Regions from separate parts of the Homo sapiens genome. Here region 1 is linked to region 2. Evidence: fine-mapped expression QTL. A gene starts in region 2. The other region holds a variant in brackets. All regions are shown on one strand. Distances are from middle to middle.

Region 1 (3,018 bases), 310 kb after region 2:
GCCCAGGCCCTGCCCCCATGGGGGCAGCCGGCTCTCCGCCCCTTCTCAGGATGCCTGTGTGGGTGTCCTCATGCTTCCAGGTGGGGAGCCAGCTCTGGGCCTCCTTCCAGTGGCCGGGGAGGTTTTGCTGCATTTCAGAGGGAGCCGTCAGGAGCAGAAGCAACATGTGGGGAGGAAAGCAGAGACGGAGGCTCCACCATGACACACTCTCAGCCTCAGCATCTGCTCAGCCCCAGTCACCATGCTGGAGAGAGGAGGCCCTTCAGGCCCCGCAGGCCTCTGTACCCTGGGAGTTCTGCCTCTGACTCTTGTCCTGCAATCCTCAGAGGGAAGCTGGCCAGGGCTGGTCAAGCCCCTGCATAGGACCTGGGCCCAAGTGGGGTACAGGCAGGGGGTGGCAGGAAGACTTCTGCCTGCCCTGCTCCCTCGGCACTTTCCTGGAGGCTGTAATGCCACAAGACAGGATCAAAACTGTGCTGTTGTTTTTTTTTCGAGAGGAGTCTCACTGTCACCCAGGCTGGAGTGTAATGGTGTGATCTTAGCTCACTGCAACCTCCGCCTCCTGGATTCAACTGATTCTCTTGCCTCAGCCTCCAGAGTAGCTGGGATTACAGGCGTGTGCCACCACACCCAGCTAATTTTTGTATTTTTAGTAAAGATAGGGTTTTACCATTTTGGCCAGGCCAGTCTCAAACTCTTGACCTGAAATGATACGCCTGCCTCAGCCTCCCAAAGTACTGGGATTACAGGTGTGAGCCACTGCTCCTGGCCCAAAACTGTCTTTTAAAAATATTTTTGGGGGTGCTGGGTGTGGTGGCTCACACCTGTAATCCCAGCACTTTGGGAGGCCGAGGTGAGCAGATCATGAGATCAAGATATCGAGACCATCCTGGCCAACATGATGAAACCCCGTCGCTGCTAAAAGTACAAAAAAATTAGCTGGGATTGGTGGCGCATGCCTGTAGTCCCAGCTACTTGGGAGGCTGAGGCAGGAGAATCACTTGAACTTGGGAGGCGGAGGTTGCAGTGAGCCGAGATAGCACCACTGCGCTCCAGCCTGGCGACAAAGCGAGACTCCGTTTCAAAAAAAAAAAAAATCTTTTTTTTTTTTTTTTTTTTTTTTTTACAGACAGGGTCTCACTCTGTCATCCAGACTGGTCTCAAACTCATGGCCTCAAACGACCTTCCCCCCTTGGCCTCCCAAAGTGCTTGGATTGGAGGCATGAGCCCCTGCGCCTAGCCCAAAGTCGTCTTGATTCCTGACTTTGTGGAATGGAGGCATGAGTGAAGAGGTGGGGAGAGGCTGAGGAGGAGGAGCCCTAGCCCACCTGGAGCACCGTGGGGCACGCACTCTGCGTCCACCTGGCCTGGACATGCCTCCTAAGGATAACAGCGAAGCCAGGGAGCAGAGCCCA[C/T]GGATGGGCCCTGCAGCTGCTGGGCTGAGACCGACAGACAGGCGTGGTCACTCCGGGCCATGCTGGCGCTGTGCTGCCCCTGCCCCTCTCCACCCCACCTCCCGACCACTGGGGCAGGGACAATGGGCCCGGCTCTGACTTCGGGCACGCTCGTCGTGTGCAGAGACACGGCCGCAGAGTCCTGGGGCTCGCTCGCCATCCTCTGCCCGGCACACATCGACTTGAGCATCTGGAAGACGGCCACGGGGGCCACGTTCAACTTCACCTGGCTCTGAAGCTGGCCGCTGTGGGCTGCATGAGAATGGTGTTTCTATAAAACATGGGAATTGCTGGTCAGACACAGTGACTCATGCCCGCAATCCTACCATTTTGGGAGGCTGAGGCGGGAGGATCGCTTGAGCCTAGGAGTTTGAGACCAGCCTAGGGAACACAGCAACACCTCATCTCTACACACACACACACACACACACACACACACACACACAATTAGCTGGGCATGATGGCATGCACTTGTAGTCTCAGCTACTAAGGAGGCTGAGGTGGGAGGATCACTTCAGCCCAGATTGAGGCTGCAGTGAGCCATGATCATGCCATTGCATTGCAGCTACTTGGGAGGCTGAGGCAGGAAGATCATGTGAGCCCAGGAGTTTGAGGTTGCAGTGAGCTGTGCCTCTAATCCCAGCACTTTGGGAGGCTGAGGTGGGCGGATCACAAGGTCAGGAGTTCGAGACCAGCCTGACCAACATGGTGAAACCCCATCTCTACTAAAAGTATTTAAAAAATTAACCTGGTGTGGTGGCGGGCGCCTGTAGTCCCAGTTACTCAAGAGGCTGAGGCAAGAGAATCGCTTGAACCCAGGAGGCGGAGGTTGCAGTGAGCCGAGATCATGCCATTGCACTCTAGCCTGGGCGACAGAGCAAGACTCCGTCTCAAAAAAAAAAGATTATGCTGAAATTTACCACTATTGGTATGAATGATCAGTATTCACCAAGCATATCTGAACATGCAAATGTTTAAGAAATAAGCATAATAAGGATATAGCTTGGGTTAATAGGATTCTCATAGTTTTTTTCCCCTATGAAACATAAGTAATAATTTTAGCATATTTATTATGGATTATACTCATTTAAAAAGGACTTTAAGAAGTTGTGCTTTGGGAGGCAGAGGCAGGTGGATCACAAGGTCAGGAGTTCGAGACTAGCCTGGCCAAGATGGTGAAACCCCATTTCTACAAAAAATACAAAAATTAGCCAGGCGCAGTGGCGGGCACCTGTAATCCTAGCTACTCTGGAGGCTGAGGCAGGAGAATCGGTTGAACCCAGGAGGCGGAGGTTGCAGTGAACTGAGATCGTGCCACTGCACTCTAGCCTGGGTGACAGAGCAAGACTCCATCTCAAAAAATAAAAAAAAGAAGTTGTGGATGTGAATAATACATTTCTCTAATAAAAATTTAAATTGTATAATAGTTTAATAAAGTGTTTACATTCATTGATTTTTTTTTTTTTAAGACAGAGTTCCGCTCTGTCACCCAGGCTGGATTTCAATGGCATGCGATCTTGGCTTACTGCAACCTCTCCCTCCTGGTTTCAAGCAGTCCTCCCAC
Region 2 (2,500 bases):
GCCTAGGCAACATAGTGAGACCCTGTCTCTACAAAAAAGTCAAAAGTTAGCTAGACATGGTGGTGTGCACCTGTATTCCCAGCTACTTGCAGGGCTGAGGTGAGGAGGATTGCTTCAGCTCGGGAGGTTGAGGCTGCAGTGAGCCAAGATCACGCCACTGCACTCCAGCCTGGGTAACAGAGTGAGACCCTGTCTCAAAAAACACATAGGGCCAGGCGTGGTGGCTCACGCATGTAATCCCAGCACTTTGGGAGGCCGAGACGGGAGGATCACTTCACTCCAGGAGTTCAACACCAGCCTGGCCAACATAGTGAAACCCCGTCTCTACTAAAAATACAAAAAATTAGTTGGACATGGTGGTGTGCGCCTGTAATCTCAGCCACTCAGGAGGCTGAGGCAGGAGAACGCTTGAACTTGGGAGACAGAGGTTGCAGTGAGCTGAGATCGCACCACTGCACTCCAGCATGGGCAGCAGCGCGAAACTCTGTCTCAAAACAAACAAACAAACAAACAAACACCCATAAACACAAAATGTATCACAGCCTCAGAGATCCCCACGAATGCCTAAGTGGCCCTGAATTTGGGAGGCACTGCTCAGTAATAGTCCTATCTGTCCCACAACAGACAGGAGTGCTGGGCTGCACCTACTGGCAACAAACACAGCAACCCTTGACTGAAGAAAGGTCCATGCCACAATCCCCTTATTCTGTAAGCCACTAATTTTGTCCTCTCTCCTCCACCTTTCACTGAGGAACGAGCTCTTGGAAGGACAGGGACACCCGCCTAGTAGCTGAGCCAGCCACATCAGTCCTGGAGAGCAGGTGGAGGGCAGATGCTGTGATCATCCCAGAAGAGAGGACACAGTTGGAGGCAGATGCATGGTCTCTACTTTCAGCTACCCTCAATGCAGCCTGGTCCCCAGAGGCCTGAAGAGCGCCTTGTTTATGTGGTGACCTCAAGAGGGGCTGCTCCTGCACCAAGGCTATGTGTGCATGCTAACACAGTAACCGTCATATACTCAAAGTGTCAGCTCTAAGAACTGGAGATGAGGAGCTGCAAGCCACTCTACAGTTATCAAAGGCACAGCTGAGGGGGTTTGTGCTGACCAAGCTGGTTGCCTGGTGTTTGGATTGGGACTTATTTACTTTGGAAAATATGCAGCAACAGCCCAGCACCAAAGTTCACATCAAAATCCCACTGATGACCTTGGCTGCTTTCATCTCTGAAGCGCCACTTCTCAGAAACACAGAGGTAAGTTGGGTTTCTAATGTTTCTGCTGATTATAAATTATTTTTGGTGTTTACGGATAGGCAACTGGTTCATTTTTCTAGCAAACTAAGAATTCAGAAGCTTTCTACACTGTTTTAGAAGTGGGAAATGGTTTCATTTTTCAGTGTGCCTATTATAAAATTGTGTCAGTTCCATTGTTGGGAGAGTTGACAAACTTAGAATAGGAGCTGTGGAATAGATGAAAATATTGTACTTATATTAAATTAATCGAATTGGATAACTGTCCTGTGATTATGTATGAGAATATCCTTGCTCTTGGGTATTTTCCCTGAAGTATTAGTATTAAAGGTTAGAGGGGCCGGGTGCAGTGGCTCACGCCTGTAATCCCAACACTTTGGGAGGCCGAGGCGGGTGGATCACGAGGTCAGGAGTTCAAGACCAGCCTGACCAACATGGTGAAGCCAAGTCTCTACTAAAAATACAAAAATTAGCTGGGCGTGGTGGCACGCGCCTGTAATCCCAGCTACTCAGGAGGCTGAGGCAGGAGAATCGCTTAAACCCGGGAGGCAGAGGTTGCAGTGAGCGGAGATCGTGCCACTGCACTCCAGCCTGGACAACAGAGTTAGACTCCGTCAAAAAAAAAAAAAAAAAGAAGAAAAAAGAAAAAATGTTAGAGGAACAAGATATAGGAGACCTACTCTCAAATGGTCTAGAAGAAAAAATGTGTATGTGCATGCCTGTGAGAACACACACGTACGTACACACACACACAGATAATGACAGGGCAAAGGTTCCAAAATTTTAAACCTGGTAAATCTCGGTACGGGTATACAGGAGTTGTTCTACTACACTATTCTTTCAACATTTTTGGAAGTTTGAACTTACTTCAAAATAAAAAGTTTTCCAAACTTTAGGCAGTTACTTCTCTCCCATTCTGCCTGCTCTGTTGGGCCTGGAGACCATACACCAGGAGGGATGACGGTTTATCAAGTGTTATGCTCTGATGCGTGACTGAAAAGGCCAACCCAGCTCTGGCAATTAGCAAGAAAGCACAATATGAAGTTCCCAGGAAAAAAAAAAAGCAAAACAAACTTTTGAATGATTTATCTTTAAAATATATTGTTTCTCTTCAAACAGTAATCTGGATTTAATCACAACCTAGTGATAGTTTTTAAACGTCTTCTACAATGTTTGTTATACTAAATAGCAAAACATCAGGAAGATTTACCTTCAGATCTTTAATTTCAATCCATAAAAGATATCAGAGATA

Evidence for each region.
Region 1: its variant is fine-mapped to the expression of SERPIND1 in subcutaneous fat (GTEx, PIP 0.97).

The regions. Positions count from the first base shown.
Region 1 is chr22:21,079,327-21,082,344 of GRCh38, forward strand. It overlaps the pseudogene LOC112268300. Among named protein-coding and RNA genes, the nearest start is that of LRRC74B, 35 kb to the left of the region's middle. The variant C/T (reference allele first, on the strand shown) is at 1,416.
Region 2 is chr22:20,772,895-20,775,394 of GRCh38, forward strand. It overlaps SERPIND1 (serpin family D member 1), which reads left to right and starts at 1,219. Exons shown (of 5, transcript NM_000185.4): 1 at 1,219-1,251. The region is part of intron 19 of PI4KA (phosphatidylinositol 4-kinase alpha); the gene reads right to left.